Regions from separate parts of the Homo sapiens genome. Here region 2 is linked to region 1. The links come from fine-mapping of genetic effects on gene expression. Tissue or cell type: whole blood. Region 1 holds a variant in brackets; the other region holds the start of a gene. All regions are shown on one strand. Distances are between the middles of the regions.

What was found. PIP is the estimated chance that this variant, and not a neighbour inherited with it, causes the effect.
Region 2: STEAP4 starts here. The variant in region 1 is fine-mapped to the expression of STEAP4 in whole blood (TOPMed, PIP 0.95).

The regions. Positions count from the first base shown.
Region 1 is chr7:88,267,896-88,278,812 of GRCh38, reverse strand. It overlaps STEAP4 (STEAP4 metalloreductase), which reads left to right. Exons shown (of 5, transcript NM_024636.4): 5 at 1-7,921. Among named protein-coding and RNA genes, the nearest start is that of STEAP4, 34 kb to the left of the region's middle. The variant A/C (reference allele first, on the strand shown) is at 5,648.
Region 2 is chr7:88,302,462-88,313,378 of GRCh38, reverse strand. It overlaps STEAP4 (STEAP4 metalloreductase), which reads left to right and starts at 6,485. Exons shown (of 5, transcript NM_024636.4): 1 at 6,485-6,587. The region is part of intron 1 of LOC124901692 (a long non-coding RNA gene); the gene reads right to left.

The sequences.
Region 1 (10,917 bases):
AGGAACTATTTTTATAACACAAGAAAAATTTACAATTGATTAAAAGTATCCATGTCTTGGATACATACGTATCTATAGAGCTGGCATGTAATTCTTCCTCTATAAAGAATAGGTATAGGAAAGACTGAATAAAAATGGAGGGATATCCCCTTGGATTTCACTTGCATTGTGCAATAAGCAAAGAAGGGTTGATAAAAGTTCTTGATCAAAAAGTTCAAAGAAACCAGAATTTTAGACAGCAAGCTAAATAAATATTGTAAAATTGCACTATATTAGGTTAAGTATTATTTAGGTATTATAATATGCTTTGTAAATTTTATATTCCAAATATTGCTCAATATTTTTCATCTATTAAATTAATTTCTAGTGTAAATAAGTAGCTTCTATATCTGTCTTAGTCTATTATAATTGTAAGGAGTAAAATTAAATGAATAGTCTGCAGGTATAAATTTGAACAATGCATAGATGATCGAAAATTACGGAAAATCATAGGGCAGAGAGGTGTGAAGATTCATCATTATGTGAAATTTGGATCTTTCTCAAATCCTTGCTGAAATTTAGGATGGTTCTCACTGTTTTTCTGTGCTGATAGTACCCTTTCCAAGGTGACCTTCAGGGGGATTAACCTTCCTAGCTCAAGCAATGAGCTAAAAGGAGCCTTATGCATGATCTTCCCACATATCAAAATAACTAAAAGGCACTGAGTTTGGCATTTTTCTGCCTGCTCTGCTAAGACCTTTTTTTTTTTTTACTTTCATTATAACATATTATACATGACATTATACAAAAATGATTAAAATATATTAAAACAACATCAACAATCCAGGATATTTTTCTATAAAACTTTTTAAAAATAATTGTATCTATATATTCAATTTTACATCCTTTTTCAAAGGCTTTGTTTTTCTAAAGGCTTTGTTTTCCTTTTTATTATTTTTTTCTTTTTTATTTTTTTGAGACAGTCTTGCTCTGTCGCTCAGGCTGGAGTGCAGTGGCACGATCTCAGCTCACTGCAACCTCCTCCTCCCAGGTTCAAGTGATTCTTGTTCATCAGCCTCCCGAGTAGCTGGGACTACAGGCATGTGCCACTATGCCCAGCTAATTTTTGTACTTTTAGTAGAGACAGGGTTTCACCACATTGGTCAGGCTGGTCTTGAAATGCTGGCGTCAAGTGATCTGCCTGCCTCCGCCTCACAAAGCACTGGGATTACAGGCATGAATCTGGCCTTACGTAATATATTTTCTTAATGGCTGCATAATATCACATCAAATAGGCATTTTTCAAACCTCTTTCCTTATTAAACATGTAGACTATATCCATTTTTTACTAAAATAAATAACATTTCAGATAATATCTTTGCACTGATAATGTTGCCAAGCCATTTCTAAAGTGACCTTATCAATTTAATTACCATTGGATGAGGGTGTTGCTTTCATCGCACCATTGTAGATTGTCTTTTTTATTTCAATTTGCGTTTATTTATAACTGGTTGCAAAGGTACACAGAACACACGCTCCTTCAACTTATCTTTGATAAACCCAAGCAAGGATACAAAAAGTTGGACGACATTGAGTAGAGTCATGGTATACGGTGCTGACCCTACAGTATCAGTGGAAAAGATAAGGAAAATGTCACTACTCACCTATGTTATGCAAAACAGTTAGGTGTGCTGGGGCTGGATACTGCTCTTTTACTTGAGCATTGGTTGATTAAAGTTTAGGTACCATCCAGGCTGGTCTAGAGAAGTCTTTGGAGTTAACCATGCTCTTTTTGTTAAAGAAGAGAGTAATGTGTTTATCCTGGCTCATAGTCCGTCACCGAAAATAGAAAATGCCATCCATAGGTAAAATGCTGACCTATAGAAAAAAATGAACTCTACTTTTATAGCCTAGTAAAAATGCTCTACCTGAGTAGTTAAAAGCAATTCATGAAGCCTGAAGCTAAAGAGCACTCTGATGGTTTTGGCATAATAGCTGCATTTCCAGACCTGACCTTTGGCCCCAACCACAAGTGCTCCAAGCCCCACCAGCTGACCAAAGAAAGCCCAAGTTCTCCTTCTGTCCTTCCCACAACCTCCCTGCTCCCAAAACTATGAAATTAATTTGACCATATTAACACAGCTGACTCCTCCAGTTTACTTAAGGTAGAAAGAATGAGTTTACAACAGATGAAAATAAGTGCTTTGGGCGAACTGTATTCCTTTTAACAGATCCAAACTATTTTACATTTAAAAAAAAAGTTAAACTAAACTTCTTTACTGCTGATATGTTTCCTGTATTCTAGAAAAATTTTTACACTTTCACATTATTTTTGTACACTTTCCCCATGTTAAGGGATGATGGCTTTTATAAATGTGTATTCATTAAATGTTACTTTAAAAATATTTCCTAGTTTTGTTTAATTCTGGTTTTAACTCATCAGCATTCCAAATAAAGTTACTAAAAGGTTTTGAATCACAGTAGTTCCAGCATCTGGGACTAAAAATACTTCCCTTCAGGGATAAGCAAAAGAGAAGGCAGTGCATGGGTTTGAAAGTGCATTAACAGATCTGCAGCTTCTTGCAATGTAAGCTTGAGCTCAGCGGGGTGGCACAGTCCAGTATGCTGTGTGTGCTTCAGTATTACCCTCAGAGAGGGGAGAGCATCAGATGGCTAAATGGGGAGGACTGCACTATCCCACGCTGGATTTTTGTGAGAATTTGGAGGTAAAAAAGGCTTTCCTTCTCCATGCAGACGCCACAGGGATAAGGCTAATGGCTTGACAAGCAGACTTCAGGTTGGATTCAGACTGCGTGACTGGGCATTAAATGCCTTGCACAACTGGACTGCTGCAGCTCTGATGGGTGTTATCCTGCTTTCAAAAATAGTATTAAAACTTACAAATAAAGAGAGGACTGACAACCTGGAGGAAGCTGGAAGCAAATGGAAAGCCCCTACTGAAAAAGCCATTTCAATTAGAAATTCATTCAGGAGCTCTTCATTCATCTATTGTTCAGGGATCACAAAAGAGCCATGATAATGATAAATGCATATTATGCATTTCACCTCTGAGAGCATAAAAGCTTCTGGAACTCTGTTCCAAAATTAAGGTGTAATGGCAGTCATGGTACTGCACACAGTAGTTGCAATTTTCATTCTCCATCATCACAACCATCATCTTCACTACCACTTCTCCAACACACACACACACACACACACACACACACACACACCCCATGAGAGCCCACAGATAGCCTTACAGGGTCCTACTTCAATTTTCTATAATGAATTAGGTTTACATTCTAGAAAAATCCTTCACTCTTCTAAAGGTTTGTTCAGTAGAATTTGGGAAAAGAGTATAAGTTACTCTTCAATGTATCAGAAGCATTTGGACCAGGTGACTCCATCTTCAATAGAGGCTGAGTAAAATAAGCCTGAGACTGGCCGGGCGCAGTGACTCACACCTGTAATCCCAGCACTTTGGGAGGCCAAGTCAGGTGGATCACCTGAGGTCAGGAGTTTGAGACCAGCCTGGCCAACATGGTGAAACCCCATCTCTACTAAAAATATAAAAAATTAGCCAGCATGGTGGCGCATGCCTGTAATCCCAGCTACTCTGGAGGCTGAGGCAGGAGAAGTGCTTGGACCCAGGAAGCAGAGGTTACAATGAGCCAAGATCGCGCCATTGCACTCCAGCCTGGGTGACAAGAGTGAAACTCCGTCTCAAAATAAATAAATAAATAAATAAGACTGAGACCTACTGGGCTGCATTCCCAGGACAGCAGGTGTTCTTAGTCACAGGATGAGATAGGAGTAAGCACAAGGTACAGGTCACAAAGACCTTGCTGATAAAACAGGATGCAATAAAGAAGCCGTCCAAAACCTACCAAAACCAAGATGGCAATGAAAGTGATCTTTGGCTGTCTCAGCTGTTCATTATATGCTAATTATAATATATTAGCAGCCTAAAATACACTCCCACTAGCACCATGACAGTTTACAAATTCCATGGCCACATCCAGAAGTTACCCTATATGTTCTAAAAGCAGGAGGAGCCCTCAGTTCTGGGAATCATCTGCCCCTTTCCTGAACATCTCATGAATAATCCATCCCTTGTTTAGCATATAATCAAGAAATAACTATAACTATACTCAGCCAGGCAGCCCATGCCACTGCTCTGCCTATGAAATAGCCCTTTTATTCCTTTACAGTCTTAATAAACTTGCTTTCATTTTATGGATTCACCTCAAATTCTTTCTTGTGCAAGATCCAAGAACTCTCTCTTGGGGTCTGTATTGGACCCCCTTTCTGGTAACATATGCATTACCTCTCCTCAAGCTCGAGGCAAAGTCCTAAAGTTTCGGATAAGACCCATATGAGGGAGGTGAAGGATGAAGGGATTGAGGGCAAAGGGACTGAGAAAAGGGGAGTGTGGAAGAGCAAGACAGTGCTCTTGCCATTACCCAGCAAAAGCCAAAAGGATCCAGTACTACTTGCTTTCTGCTGTAAGGGAATTTTGGAAGGCTTTTAATGATACTTACAGCAGAGTGCCATGCGTAAAGCCTATGCTAACAATTTCACATGCATTATCTTATTTAATCCTCATAACAGTTCTCTAAGGTTCTCTTCTTATCCTTATTTATCAGAAGAGGAAACTGAGCTTTGAAATCTCAGTACTTTGACTAAGTTCACACAACTAATGAGAGGCAGAGCTGGGATCTAGGCAGTCTGACTCCAGGCCCATCTCCTTTTAACACAACGATATAATAGGGGACACCCATGCTGTCCTCTTAAATGTCCCTTTGAATCCACAAAATAGACTAAGTGAACGAAACCACTGCAACTCTTCTTAAAAACATTTTTAAAGACAAGAAGCTTATTCGCATTTTAAATATTCCTGATTGCCCAGTCCTCAATACTCCAGGTTTATCTATGCTGATTTCAATTCGTCCTCTAAGGTTGTAGAAACACAGGATCTGTGGTTCCCGCATTAAGTTCAATTCCATTGCAATTGCCATTTTAATCTTCCCACTCTAGTCTGGCCACAAGGTTTCCTAAACTCTAAAGGGAGCTTTGTTCTGGTGGAGGGAGGTAAAATCCCCAGACCTGAGGACTCGAAGGGGCAGTCAAGGAGAGGATAGCTCTTCTCCAGAGCTTAAAGGCAAATATTTTCTTTTTCCCTGGTTTCTCACCTTATTGCTTTGTGTACTGAGTGAACTTATTTGTTTTTGAGATCCAGTAACCCATGCAAGAAATTTCATAACACTTCTCATTTAGTACTTTAATACTAGTTGAAGAATCTAGGGTTACACACACACACACACACACACACCAGGCTTAGTTCCATTACCTATAGCTGTAAAAATGAGATTTTTTTCTCAGTTTTGTGAAAATGAAAGGCTGCTGGACTGGAACTCACAGTATTGTATATCAAAAAGTATCAGATTGTGATAAAATAGAAACCCAGAATTAAACTTGGCCTTATGATTTTTAGAAAGTCAACAGATTTTGAAGGAGCCCACCCAGTGTATTCATTTCATTTTTACTAATCCTTTCTTTCATGCTAAGATAGAGATGAAAAAGAATGACAGACTTCCTGTTCTCATTTCATTACAGCAAAATAAATAAGTTTTAGTGTTCCATAGCTCTGTAGGATGACTATAGTTAA[A/C]AATAACATATAATTTCAAATAGCCAGGAGGACATTGACTGTTCCCAACACAAAGAAATGATAAATGTTTGCAATGATGGATATGCTAATTACACTGATCTGATCACTATACATTGTACATACATAAACATGACTATGTACCTCATGGATATGTACAACTGTTATTTGTCAGTTTTAGAAAATAAAAAAGCAGAAGAGATCTGCTACCAAATGCAGGAATTTTCTATAGAGTCTGTTATAGCTAGCCTTCTACAGGCTTAACTCTTCTCATGATGGAGTATTGACCATCACCAACAGGAAATCTTTTGTTTTAGGCACTCCAGGAAATTATCAGGGAGTTCTCTCTGTAGATAACCAAAGTTTCCCTAGTTGTACTTCTACCCATTTTTCTTAGTGTGATCATTTAAAGCAGTGCCTCACCAACTATCAGAGATGGGGGCCAGTAATTTTTGTTTCATTTTTTTCCAGTTCATTACAAATCAATGCATATGTCTGTAAAACACAAAATCACACCCTTAAATGTGATGGCAACATCAAATTGCCATAAAAGTTTCTAAACTTTTCACCCCAATTTCTGAATTTATCACAGACTGGTAAAAAACAGCTCACAAGCCAGCACCACGGGCAGACCACACTTTGCACAGTGCTCAAACGTAGGCCTAACAACCTGGCTTGGCTTGGCACTTCTAAAAACCGATCCTGAGGCAAGGCTTCTTGTAAAAGAGTTTATACTGGAAGTTAAAAATCATCAAATTATTAGATACTGGGAATGGAGTAGTAAAGTAGACAGAGCAGGGAAGGAATAAAGTATGAATTTTCAAGCTGGTTACCCATCTGGGCAACTGGAGCTCAGTTTTGCTGGGAAAGTCTGGAAGACAGTGTCAGATATAACTAAGAGTTATTCCCATCAAGGGGAAAGGAAACTGTGCTTTTCATCCACCAAATCCTTGCTTAACATTGGAATACAGATGCTTCCAAGACATTAACTTTGTGGCACTTCTGGCTTTTCCTACACACTTATTGTGTATGCCACCATGTCTAGGGGGAAAAAGGCCCACAGGCAAAGAGGTACCAGCATTCATACCACCAGCTTTCAGCTTGTAGAGGTGGCCGCCAAGAGGAACTCGTAGTTGGCAGTGCCAACTACAACTACTACACCAACCAGCTGGAAACTATACAAAGAGTATGAACAAAGTTCACAGGAGAAACAAGGCTCTGCAACATATGAAAATATATTCTACTTCATTCATAATGAGACGCATGAAAATTGTAACTGTATCAATACCATTTCTCACCTAGTAGATGGGCAAAAATCCAAATGTTTGAGCACACATTCTGTGGGTGAGGCTGTGGAAACGTAGGTTCACATACATTGCTCTTGGATATGCAGATTAGGACCGCTCCTGTGGAGAGCAGTTAGGGAATATCTTTCAAAATTAAAAAATGCAGAGTTAAGTTTTGATCCAGGAGTCTCACTCCTGAGAATTTATGCTATAGATATGCCTACAAGCATTTGAGATGAAAAAGAAGCATTGCTATTTGTTTTTCTTGTTTTTCATGAATAACATTGTAAAAGTAGAATATGGGCAGTGATTCAAGCATTCATCTTTGGGACTGGTTAAGGAAACTATGATGCTTTCACAGAATGAAATTCTATGCAGCTGTTTAAAACAAACCAAGACACCTTCTTTCACATATATGGAAAGATGTCCAAAATATACTGTTCAGTTTTTAAAAAGGTACAAAATAACATATATAGTATGATTCCTTTTGCATATGTGTATTTGCTTTTAATTGCCTAAAGAAACTCTCAGAAGGATTCAAAAGATCCATACCAAACAAGATGGGAGAACAGAGGAGTAGTGACAGGAGTAGAAGCACTGTAGACCTTTTCATATCATTTTGGTTTTTAAATTACATGAGTAGGTTACCTAATTATTAAAATAAATTTAATTTAAAAGGTAATGGGGGATAGGAAGAAATTTGTTAAAAGATACAAAATTACAGCTAGATAGGAAGATTAAGTTGTAGTGTTCTATAGCTCTGTAGGATGACTACAGTTAACAATAATATATATTCTAAATAGCTAGAAGGAGGATATTGAATGTTCTCAACAGAAAGAAATGATAAATGCTTAAGATGATGGATATACTAATTACCCTAATCTGATCACTGTATATTTTGTGTATTGCAATGTCACTATGTACCCCATAAATATGTATAATTATCGTGTGTCAATTAAAAATTTTTAATTAAAAAATTATAAACAAAAAATTTTTTAAAGTAATTGATTGCATATCCCTGCTAAATCTTATCTTACGCTAAACACCAGCACATTCACTGTTTTCTCTTGTATAAAAATTTCTAAATCTTTCATCTTTCTGGTGCCTCTTGTTCAGATCTACAAACATTTCAATGTTCCTTTTAAAACACAGTTCCCTAAACCAAAAACATGATATTTTTCCCTTCTTTCACATTCTGTAATTAAAATAGTATTTAAATTCCTAGTAGACATTTTAGGAATATTCAACAACAAAAAGTTGTCCATTATTTCATCTGTATTGGCATTTTTCCCCATATGAAAAAGACTTAAAATACTTTAATATAAAATAAATTTTCAATAAAAATAGTTTTTATAAAACTGGCTAAAAATAGCAAGTAGGCATCAAAAATATAACTCCAGTTGAGGTGCAGGTTTAGAGTATAACGTGATTGTTGCTTCTGTTATTCTAACTTGTGAGTCTCTATTAATTTAGTGTACATGTTCACTGTAAATTTTTATAGTCGCAAAATTTCAGGATCACATCAAATAATATGCCTAATTTCTTTTCACATAAAGCATTAATTCCAGTCTCTCCATAGTCTGCCCCTCTAGCCCCATCTCTGCCCCCTTCCACCACCAAACCATCCACCCTACACTGATTACCATTAATATTTTTAAACCTAAGTACAAAGCAAAAATATCTTGCACTATCTGCACTGTCTTTGCAATAATGCTATAAATCTAAAATTATTTTAAAATACTATGACCCTAACATTGTTCTAAAATAAAAGGTTTACTTAAAAAAAAGCACTCACCATATTCTTATTAAAGTTTATCTCATATAAATTAACCTATCCTTCAGCATAGAAAATTGTTTTAAATATTAATTCCCTTTTCCAAAAGATATGCTCTACACATATTTCCTAAACATGGCCTCCATGTCTTTATTTTAGTTTTTGATAGGAAATACAGAAACGTTATCCATAACCTCCAACTCCAACTATAGTGTTTTTTAGACTACATGAAGCCTAGAGATTATCTAATAGTATACATTCATTTCACAGATGTGGAAACTGAACCCAAGAGGGTGAAGTAATTTCTGCAAGGTCACATAGCTACATTGCAACAAAGCAGAATTGGACCACAGATGACTGATTTTCAGGCTAGGGTTTTTTCCGATCCTTTTGAAATCAGGTGATTAAGTTGAAAACAAGCTGGTTGTAGATCCAAAAAAAAATGGGGGTCAAAAGGGCTGATCCGAAACAGGTATATCCAGTGACAATTTTGGACTTTTCAGTCTGTGATGAGTACTTTGCCTTTAAAAAACATGACAGAGACTAAAGAAACAGAATTATCTAGTGGTATATTTAGGCTGACTGTGATTATTGGAATTCTAAAGAATGATACACAACATTTTCCCCTTCTTTAACGTTCTCTCATTAAAATAATATTTAAAGTCTTAGTAAACATTTTAGGAATATTCAACAACAAAAAGTTGTCCATTATTTCATCTCTGTTGGAATTCTTCCCCATATGAAGAAGACTGTTAAAACTGCTTTAATATAAAATAATTTTACAATAAAAATAGTTTTTATAAAACTGGCTAAAAATACCAAGTAGACATCAGTGGCAGTCATGGAAGATGACCTACTCAGATGTTCCTTCAAGAGAACCTGCTGCAAGGAAACATAACAAATAAACAACTTTCAACTGGCCCACATTATTGATAAGCACCACGTTATTCACATGATCCACATTGCCCTTGGGCTGCTCCCAGGCAATGACCATGCATAACAGAGATACTAGAACAAAGCCATCATTGCCTCAAAAGAGCTTCCTCTAATGGATCATTGCCTCATATGAGCTTCCTCTAATGGATCATTGCCTCATATGAGCTTCCTCTAATGGGCAGCATTTGCTTGGATGTTCCCACTGGGCCAGCCAAGACCTTTTCACATCTGCACTATGATCTGGATCTCCTCCTATCCAATGTTTCCCTTGCCTTCATCTTTTGCACGTGTAAGACCAGCATTGCAATATGAAGGCTCCCTCCTCCTTTATCCTTTAAGTCATTTCTTCCAATAAATCTCCCATCCTATCTTGGTACCTGCTTCTTGGAGAACCTAACTGACAAAGCATCACAGGCAGAAAAGCAGCAAAATAAATAACTTTTGTTAATAACATTAGATAATAATTATGACATTTATTAACCCTTTCACTCAAATATAATCCTCAACAGATAGTTTCGCCAATTGTTATGTCCTAAGATGTTAAGCATAAATAAGTGACAAATGTACATCACAGAGTGTGTTAGGGAAGCATATCTCTTTTTCCAAGTTCCAATCCCCTACCTATGAAAGAGAAGAAAATATGTGATTCTTAAGGTCTAAAAATACATACGAAAGAAAAAAATGCATTTCTGTTTCACTGAACATTATGAAGCTGCTAGTCTCAGAGAAGGGCTAAACATGGTAAAGAGATAGTGAAGAAAAGATGCTTGGGGAGCAAAAGTTGAAAATGGCTGAATCTGAGAAAAAGGTATGGATTTAATCCCTCCACCACCCTGAATCTGAGGCAGAGGAACGAGGATTGCAGAATGAAGTATCCCAAATGCTGAGAGATGACTCATTACTTTAGTAAGACACAAAGCTTTTAGTAAGAATCTTCAGTCAATACAGTAAAGTTCTCTGAGAAACACTTCAAAGGCCATGCAAAGCAAAGTGACTACATCGACCCAACTCTTAACAGCAGTATCATGTGGCCAGAAGAGCCAGAATAAAGATGTCAACCACCACAGGCACAGACCAGAACCCTCCCCCACCTTCTAGCCCTAATCAATTTCTGCACCCTGATTTGAGAGAAGGATGAGAGAAAAAAAGACACAAAAATTAACTTAAATTGAATGTGATATTGGCTAGGTGCACAGTAGCTCCACAAAAAGTTATTCTGACTTACAAAATTAAAAAATTGTAGCATTCCTTATACCTAGGAGTTGTGCCACAAGTTT
Region 2 (10,917 bases), 35 kb before region 1:
CCAGACTCAAGTGATTCTCCCACCTCATCCTCCTGAGTAACTGGGACTACAGGCACGTGCCATCACACCTGGCTAGTTTTTTTGTTTTTTGTAGAGACAGGGTCTCACCATGTTGCCCAGGCTTTTCTCGAACTCCTGGGCTAAAGCGATTGGCTCACCTTGGCCTCCCAGAGTGCTAGGATTACAGACATGAGCCACCTTGCCTGGCCACCATTTGTAATTTTTAAGAACAAATATATATGCTTTTATATGCATAGTCTGTCTATGAAAGGAGCCCAATAAATCATCAACGTGGTTGCCTCCAGACAAGGGAGCTCAATGTCTGCAGAAAACAGCTTTTCAACATACCCCATTTATATCTTGAATTTTGCATTAATTGTTTAAATATTTTAGTTAATTATTTAAACTAAAGTGTTATATAATGTAAAACAATCTACAGTAACTAAATAAATTGTTTAGCAAACACTCTGTGAACATAAATCATCTGTATTTGGTACTACAGAATCATCTATAGTTAATACTACCAGTATAAAAATAATATATATAATTATCTTTAAAGAAACCCCAAAAAAGAAAATAACTTTTAGCAAGTAATTGATCTTTACAGTTAGAAAATGGAGAAAAAAAAATAGCCTCATATTTTCAGTATTCTTCTCTTTTGCTTTTCCTCCTGTGATTGGTTTTATACTATTTTCCCTGCTAACTCTATTTGAAAGTGAACAGGACCTCATTCACTCTAATATTTTTAAATTTATTTTTGTCTCCTCTTTAGCATGTGAAAAATCTAACTAACCTTCCTTTACTGGCACTAGGCACAAATTGCCTGGACTGGAATTGCTGTTGCCAATAATACTTCCAGTACTAACAGTAACTACCAATCAACTATTGATTCATAGCTCTGCTAGCAGCTTCATATATCATGGCGTGTACCAGCAGGCTGGGGTGAAAGCAGATGACACATCTTCAGTTTTTGAATTACAGAAAGAACATCTCTATTAATGCCAGCTGCATTTATCAAAAAATTAACTCAAATATTTCTCCATCTCTTCAAATTATTTTGCACATCTTGTTCTTTGGTAACATCGTATTTAAGTGACCTCTTCTGAGGTCAGCAGATGTGGTCTTGGGCCGCCTCCAGATTCCTATTGGTGATAGTCAGTCCATAGCCCTGCCAGTGCCTTAGAAGCTTCCAAAATTAACACAGACCTTGTGACCCAGGGAATCAGAGACCCAGATAAAGAGGAAAGGGTTTCCTTGCCTATTTTCAATTCCCAGAAGTAGCTGCAACTGTCTGTCACTTCTAGGCTTTGTCAGTGATGTTTTAAAATATTATTATTCACTTATCCCACATACTCAACTCTTCTCTTCAACCTCCTCTTGAACCTAAAGTCAAGTTCTTTAGGTCTTATTTTTAAGTTCTTTATTGTCATTCCTGACATTATCCCTAGTCCAGACTCCAATACTGTCAGTGTCTGACGTATTTTCCCATCAGTACTTTTTTTGGGTGCAGGTGGGCAGTAAAATGTTGTTTGGTTTTGCTTCCTGGTCTGTGTTGGCAGGAGTCCTAGAAATTGGTTAAAACCAGGTCAATGGCCTGGCTTCTTCACTATACCCTTTGCAGTTTCAGGAAAAAGGAGGAGAAGGATTCTATCTGTCCACCCCCACTAAAATAGGAAAGAAGTAGAAAAAAAGTTTTCTGAGACAGGAAAATGATTTCTGAATATACCAGGAAGTAGCTGAAAAACTTCAGTCACAGAAATTGATTATTTATCCAAGTCCCAAAGCTACTACAAGAAAACTCAGAAAGGCCTTTGTTTTGCTTTTTTTAACAACACATGCCTTCCTCATTCTGACCACATGTTGTGATGAAGCCACCTCAGTAGGCATTACAGTCACAGAAGTCTGACTGAGCAGGTGCCTTTCTCATCCTACCCAATCCCATTTTATACAAATAACAGACATTCAATTACTGACTCATGTCACTAAAAAGCCCAGAGTATACAGCTTTCTTCAGATATGGCACTCTAACAATTGCAGAAATCTGTCTCTTCTCATCTCTTTGCTCTCTTTTCCCCTGAAGTGGCCTCTTTCTCAGGCTGACTTTCTCCTCACAGTGACCCAGGCTTGCTTTTTAGCAGTCCGACAACCCTCTGTAAAGAGTGTGCTGCTTCCCAGGTTGTTCCAGGAAAGATTCCTATTGGCCCAACTCAGGTCACATGCCATCATTGGACCAATCACTGTGGACAAGGCTTTGTGCTTTGAATGGCCAGGTCTAAGTCAGGTGCCTGATCCTGGAACCCCAGTGCCATTGGTTCAACTTGAACCACGTGGATCAAGATTGTGCAAGGGCGTTTATCAAACGAAAATGAAGATATAATTAGCAAAGAGAAATGGATGCTGCAGGACCAGGACTAGAGCAGGCAAGGAAGGCACCAAAGGAAAAACATTTAAGAAGTCATTTATTTTCAGGTTCGTGCAGACTGGGTTTTGAGTGAGCACCTCCACAGATTTGGTGTCCTAGCCTCCTCATTCACCTCACTTAGTCCTGGTCCTGGATGCTAGGTAAGCAAAAGACAAAATATTCCTTACACCAATATTCAAATATATCTCCCAGAGCGCCTGAAATCCCTGCCATAGAGATTCATTTCTGGGGGTTAGACAGAGACATCTCTAGGAGTCCTTCAAAAAAAATTTTTTTTTCAAAAACAGCTAGAGGGCAAATCTTTAAGTCAATAAAAGATTCGCATACACATGCTAATTATAGACTATCAAGTCAGTCACCTCCTGGTCCAGCACGTGTTGAAAGCTCCACCCCACCCCAATAAGAAGGTGTGGAACACTGTAAGGAGAGGACTTGCGGAAGAGGGATAAATGCCCAAGACACAAGATAGTGCAGAGGGGAGCCCCAGAAAAGGAGAAAAATGGCATTGAAAGGGAGATACAAAATGTTAAGGGTAACTTTTTTTCAATCACTTAATAACATTTAATGAACACTGGCTCTAGGCCTACTTCATCAGTTTGCCTAAATTCTACCATTTGGGGCCTTTGACATAGTAGGATGAGGAGAGAGGAAGTAGCAGGAAAGACTCAGGGGCACAGTAAATGTGGAAATCCCTAAATAAGAACAATTTGGTGGTGCACAACATCTGGGAAGGTTTATCTGGAGCTCTGAGTATAAAACTACAGGAAGAAAGATGAATCCTGCCCACAGGAAGTCCTTGGGTACTCAGGTTGCTGGCATCTTTGGGAAGCTTAATTTTCCCCTATGGCAAGGGTTTACGGAAAGACTAGGAGAGTTATGAACTGTGTGTCCCTCCTAGGCCCAAGGGGAAAATCAATCTTTAAACCACAAGATAAATACGTCAAATGCCTCTTAAGTTTTGCACTAATAAAGGCATTTTTTTTCCATCCTTCATATCCCAGTAATTTAATCTTCCTTTTCTAGGACTCCAGTTGCCTTTGGCAAAGAAAAGAACTTGCATAACTGAAATATATCTGCCTCTCATAAAAATCACATTTCAAAATTTTTTATCTACCTAATAATAATAAGTTTATAAAGCAATGATTCTGTTATTACTCAGAGGATGCATTCGAGAATATGGTTGTCCATTATGTCAACTCATAATGGATCCAAACACCACCTAGAAACCAGAGTGACCTGGTCCATAGACCCCAGCTTCTGCTTCTAAATGGCATGCATCGATATAGCTACTCTCTTAACCAGATGTCAGTAAACCTTGGAATTTTATAACTCACTCGTCTGTTTATCCAGCAGCCTTCTGCATATAAAATAGCTTCCACAGGATATGTCTACATGGAGAGAATGTGATGGCCATAATGTCTGGTGCCCTTAGCAACTGTATTTTTACAATAACTATTTGCTTTATATTCCATTAACAACTAACAAGTCACCATTTTGGTTGTTTCAGGCTCAGTGTGCTTATCAAGTTTCTGTGCCCATCAAGGCTTAAAACCAAATGGTAGACAAAGGGCAAGTCTCCAAAACTGTGTTGACCATCTATGAAGACTCTTAGGGACACGCAGCGGACCTTCTTCCATGGGTGCACACCCCTCTCTTGCCTATTAGTCTGCAAACTGGGAAAATCAGATGCTATAAAATCAATGAATATTTTAAGTTCTTCCCTGGCCAAAGAATACTATCGGATGAATTTTTTGCAAAATATAATAATTGGCAGTAGATTTATTAATTAATGAGTGCAATAAATATTCAGTACCAATTACACTCACGCACCACCTAACAATGTTTCGGTCAATGATGCACTGCATATATAATAACGGTCTCATAAAATTATAATGGAGCTGAAAAATTCCTCTTGCCTAGGGACACTGTAGCTGTCATAACATCACAGAGCAATACATTACTCACATTTGTGGTGATGCTGGTGTAAAGAAACCTACTATGCTGCCAGTCATATAGAAGTATAGCATGTACAATTATGTACAGTATATAATACTTGATAATGATAATAAATAGCTATGTTACTGGCTTATGTATTTATTATATGTACCTTTTAAATTATTTTTGAGTGTACTCCTTCTACTTGTATTTTTTAAAAAGTTAACTGTAAAACAGCCTCAGGAAGGTCTTTCAGCAGATATTCCAGAAAAAGGCATTGCTACCACAGAAGACAGCTCCATGCATGTTACTGCCCCTGAGGACCTTTCAGTAACAAAAGACATACAGGTGGAAGACAGTGATATCACATATCTTGATTCTGTGTAGGTCTATGCTAATATGTGTGTTTGTGTCTTCATTTTTAGCAAAAAAATTAAAACTTTTAAAAACGGGACAAAAGCTTATCGAATAAGGATATAAAGACAAAAACTATTTGTACACACTGTACAATATGTGTTTTAAGCTGCGTTATTACAAAACTCAAAAAGTTTTTTAAAACTTAGAAGTTTAAAAAGTAAAAATGTTACAGAAAGCTAAGGGTAATTTACTATTGAAGGAAGAAAAATATTTCTTATAATAGCATAGCCTAAATGTAGTGTTTATAAAGTCTACAGTAGTGTATAGTAATATCCTAGGCCTTCACACTCTCTCACTTACTCACCCAGAGCAACTTCCAGTCCTGTAAGCTCCATTCATGGTAAGTGTTCCATACAGGTATACCATTTTTTATCTTTTATACCACATTTTTACTATACCTTTTCTATGCTTAGATACACAAATACTTACCATTGTGTTACAACTGACTACAGTATTCAGAAAAGTAGCATACTGAACAGGTTTGTAGACTAGGAGCAATCGGCTATATACCATCTAGCCTAGGCCTGTAGTAGGTGATACCATCTAGGTTTGTGTAAGTGCACTCTATGATGTTCACACAATGACGAAATTGCTTGATGAGACATTCCTCAGAATATATTTAATAAATTGCTTAATGAGGCATTCCTCAGAATAAATCCCCATTGTTAAGTAATGCATTTTGCTAGGTGTTATGGAAAATTCCAGACTGAAAAAACTAGGGTGTCATCCCTCGAAGACTGCAGTCCAGGACAAGACACACACACATGATAATAACTCTTTTGAAAGGCAAATTGTCTTAATTGCTGTGCTAAAAGTATAAACTACTGTATAGAGAAAGAAAATATTAATTGCAACTAATGGCTAAGAAAAGACCTCTTGAAAGACATGGGGTCTGACCAACCCCACAAGAAGCTATGAGGAGAGTTGCAATCCAGACAAAGGGAAGGTTGACTCAACAACCCCTTTCCATGGGAGGAACAGGCCTCCCATGTGGCCGGGCCTCTGGAGCTTGGCAAGCGTATGCTGTGGAATTTAAGACCCATGGCTGAGTGGAGATCATTGGGAAGACTCTGGGATTTAGATTACAGAGTTTGGGAGTGTATGGATGCTTTGCCCCATAGTTTATCAGGATTATTTCAATCTTAAACAACCAGGGCTGTGGTTTTTGACCTTCTCTGTAGAAAGACACATTTGCATGTATATCATAAGGTATCCCGATCCCTCTTTCATTTGTTTTATTTCTTTAATCTACCTAAATTAAGACCTGAAAACTCAAGATCTTCCAAGTTATGAGCCCCATAAGAACCCATGGCTTCCAGGCGGAGGGGAAAGATACCACCTTTTCTATAAACTGAGACAAGATGGCAAAAGAATTGCCTAGAAGCCTAGTCCAGGTGCTGTTTTCTCAGCTACTCAAAGAGATCCTTCTTGCTCCTTTAGGAAAGGGGGATTCCTAGACCTCTCCAAACCTCAATCACCCTGGGATGCACAGATGCCAAGGGCTCGGGTGTAACCCTTAAAATCCCCGCTTCCCGGGGGTCAGCGGCACCATCAGCAGCACCGCAGTATAGAAGTTCCGGTCCTTCCAGCTGCTGGGATTCTCAGCTTGAACTCTTCCAGGAAACAAGTTCTTTTCCGCTTCTCTTGCGAAATCCAGCAGACCGTCCCGCCCTTCTCTGGCTTCTTATAGCAGCGAGAGCCACAAGCCACAGCGCTGAGCTGCAGGCGCGGCGAAACTTCCCTCTACCCGCCCGGCCCGCGGCGCGCACCGTTGGCGCTGGACGCTTCCTCCTTGGAAGCGCCTCTCCCTCAGGTGGGTCACTTTTCGCCACAAGGCTCCCGTCCCTTATCTGCTTCAGCTCACCTCCAGTCCCTGCTGCTAGGACCCCACTCCCCAGCCCATCGCACTGAAGAACAGGTGCTTGCAAACTCCCCGCCGCGCCCCGGCATCACTTTAGAGGAAAGTCACCTGAGGCTGCTCCGCGATTCAGCAAGCTTCTAACTTCCTGGAGTTTAAGGCTCATCCCTACCCCAGGGTGCAGACAAGCCCAAAGGGGGAAAATTAAGGGGTTAGATTCTTCTCTGCATCTTACTTCTGGATTGGCGCACTCTTGGGGCGCCCATCAAAAAGTAGGCTGGAAGAATGTGGCTTTAGCAGTCAGTCTCCAAGGTCTCAGATCCGAGGCTGCTTCTTGACCAGGCACTAAAAATTTGTCCTGATACCTGCAACCACTTCCATTTTTTTATCTTGATTTAAATTTCCTCTTGCAATTTAAAGGTTATTTTTCTGGAGGAAGATTGTTCAGAATATAATTTATTGTGAAGAGTAAATAAAGCCTCAGTTCCGTTTGTTTGTCCAGAGACAGAATTTTATTATTCTTTTTCCCACCTCTAGATGGTAATTTAGGAACTTTCTTTAAAAGATTGGTGTACTGAGGCTGGGTACGGTGGCTCAAGCCTGTTATCCCAACACTTTGGGAGGCCAAGGCCGATGGATCACTTGAGGTCAGGAGTTCGAGACCAGCCTGGCCAACATAGTGCAACCCAGTCTCTACTAAAAATACAAAAATTAGCCAGGCGTGGTGGCAGGTGCCTGTAATCCCAGCTACACAGGAGGCTGAGACAGGAAAATCACTTGAACCTGGGAGGTGGAGGTTGCAGTGAGCTGAGAAAGTGAATTGGATAGAGAATGGGGGAGGGGAGGAAGAATACTATTCCTAGTTCTATAATAACTAGAACCTCATTATCTCAGCCTCAGTTTCCACAGATGTAAAATAAAAGGCTGGCTACTGGGCCAGATGATCCAGAAAGTTCAACTCTAACAAGGTGAAAAGCCGTGACTAAAGATGCCTGCAAGTTTGAAATACATAGAAAATCTCCTTAATGCTACAACTATAATTCAGTGGTTACTTTTTTCATAATAATGCATGTTCCATTTTTATAAGGAAACTCTCCAGTTGTCGGGGGAAGAGTCTCTTCCCACAGGAGCATCTTAAAGTTCTGCCACATTTATCATTCAGAGAATACTCTCAGCTTTCAAAACCATTCTTCAGCCTTGCTATGTGAGAATGTCCTATTCCCTACAAATGGCAGTCATATAAATGTCACTCACATGAGAGAACATTTTTTTTTTCTGATACAGTAGGTATAATTTTGTAAAATGGCACATTTATTTGAAGCAGTAACTTTTCTGAGATATGGCCTTTTGCAAGGTCCCAAGTTTTTCAGAATGCTGTGATTTAGCACAATATGAGATTTGACCTGCATGTATTCTACCTGCATGGCAAACACTGCCAACCCAGAAAACAGGATGAGACACTTCCTATTTATCAGGCTCCAAGGCTGTAAAGTAAATGGTACATGTGTACAGAGAAATTGGGTCATAGCAGTTTTTCTATTTGGTAACGTTTACAGTTCCACTGAGGTTCACGTTGTTCACATTGTTGAAGTTCACATTGTTCAGAAACCAGGTGTACAAGGCCTGGCCCCTAGCTGAAGAACAATTTCCAGACTTCTGCCTTACTAAAGCTCGCTAACTGTTGTTTAGAAGGAACTAAACAGACTTTTTAAGATTGTTAATAAATTAAAAACCCCAGGCCTTGCACTATGTGTGAACAATTTTAAGAAAAATAAGGTCATTTGTTATGGAATTTTATATTCAAAGAAACTTGGAGTGGTCACTCTGCATTACTTTGTCTCTTGAAGGACTTCCCCTGAATCACCCTACTATTATTAATACTGTTATTAAAAGGATATAAATTCTCCTTTTAAAGGCTGGGTAGCTGATTCTGTTGTCACTCTCAGGAACACATTCCACTGTTTTAGGATCCTTACCACCTAGTTCTCTTCATAATTAATTTAGACGTGTTTATCAAATGCTACTTAAAAATCATTTTTTTTTTGGAAAATCTTAGGAAATCTGATAAGTTGCTAGCAAACACACACACACACACACACACACACAACAGCAGCAACACAGTAGTCCTTCAAAACCTGAAGATTGGGCACTTTGCTAGGGCACTTTGTAGCTAGTTTTTTCTGGGTTGTCCTCTGAGAAGGTAATTTGCTAGTGCCTGCAGCTACATCTACCAATAATTCTTACTATAACAATGCAGAGTAGGATGGGGATAGTGAAGTTTTCTGGGTGGGATTTTGTTTGTTTGTTTGTTTTTTTGTTGTAAGTTTATGCCAGATAATAATAATGTAAGGTTTACAGAGATAAGATCTCTGAAGTTACCTGTCTCTGTTCTTCACAGATTTTTTTTTATTATTATACTTTAAGTTTTAGGGTACATGTGCACAATGTGCAGGTTAGTTACATATGTATACATGTGCCATGCTGGTGCGCTGCACCCACTAACTCGTCATCTAGCATTAGGTATATCTCCCAATGCTATCCCTCCCCACTCCCCCCATCCCACAACAGTCCCCAGAGTGTGATGTTCCCCTTCCTGAGTCCACGTGTTCTCATTGTTCAGTTCCCACCTATGAGTGAGAATATGCGGTGTTTGGTTTTTTGTTCTTGCGATAGTTTACTGAGAATGATGATTTCCAATTTCATCCATGTCCCTACAAAGGACATGAAAAGAGACTGGTTTACTAATTAGGAAAACTTCCTGAACAGTTCTATATACTGTGTTAACTCCACTCAAGATATTTCTGATGACTTTTAGGTCATTTCCAAAGTGATTTGAATTAGTATTTGTCCTTTTGTTAAGAAGAAATCAGTCCTGGAAGGAATCAAACTAAATAAATAACTAAAGAATAATTAATGCATAAAACAAGGCATGCTAAGAAAACATTCTTGGCCTACATAGATTAACAATTTGTTCTTCCCAAATCATTAAGGAATAGAAAACAATGAATCCTTGTGCTGTTTAAAGATCCTCTTTCAGAAACATATCATTGCAAAAGAACACACTATTCTACTAAAGGAAGTATATACACTCTAATTAACTAGGCAGGACATTGACATCCCAATCTAAATTCTTCTCCACAATGTTCTGTAAGAGTTTATTCAGCCATGTGTGGAGAGGTTTACTGTACTGTACTTTGGCAGTCACATATTTCTGAAAAGCTATTTTGGGAGGACTTTTTTTTTTTTTTTTTGAGACTGAGTCTCGCTCTGTCACCCAGGCTGGAGTGCAGTGGCAGGATCTTGCCTCACTGCAACCTCTGCTCCTTGGGTTCAAGCAGTTCTCCTGCCTCAGCCTCCTGAGTAGCTGGGATTATAAGTGCCCACCACAATGCCCAGCTAATTTTTTTATGTTTAGTAGAGAAGGGGTTTCGCCGTGTTGGCCAGGCTTGTCTGGAACTCCGGTCCTCAGGTGATCCATCCGCCTTGGCCTACCAAAGTGCTAGGACTACAGGTGTGAGCCACCGCGCCCGGTTGGAGTTTTTTTTTTTTTTTTTTTTTTTTTAATGCAGATTATATGATCAATCCTAACATCAGGATAAAGTTCCCTTTTCATCTTAAAAGGAAGGAAAATGTTTGCAAAGAGTAATTTTGAAAAGTTAGGAACTATAATTCTAAATAAAAAGAAGGCTAAAAGAAAATAAAACTATATAGCACAGCTCTTGGAAGATTATTAGTAGAATACAAGCTAGTCAGTTTGGCCTCAGCACCCAATTTTTTTTTTTTTTTTTTTTTTTTGAGACAGTCTCACTCCTTCACTCAGGCTGGAGTACAGTAGCGCGATGTCAGCTCACTGCAACCTCCATCTCCTGGGCTCAAGCAATTCTCCTGCCTCAGCCTCCTGAGTAGCTAGAATTAAAGGCATGCACCACCAAGCCTACCTAATTTTTGCATTTTTAGTAGAGATGGGGTTTCGCCATTTTTGCCAGGCTGGTCTTCAACTCCTGACCTCAAGTGATCTGCCTGTCTTGGCCTCCCGAAGTGCTGGGATTACAGGCGTGAGTGACCGCACCTGGCCAGCACCCAATATTAAGGAAAAAAAAATGCATTAAGAACAGAGCCAGGGCTCAGAGAGCTGATGGCACCAGCACTGTGGAGCGTAGAAATAGGAAGGGATAATTAATGGTCATCGCTGATTGTTCATCTTTCATCTATACCTGCTCTTTTTACAGGGTGTGAAAACAGTTTTGAGCTCAAGTTAAATTGTGGCTGCAAAACTTTTGCACAG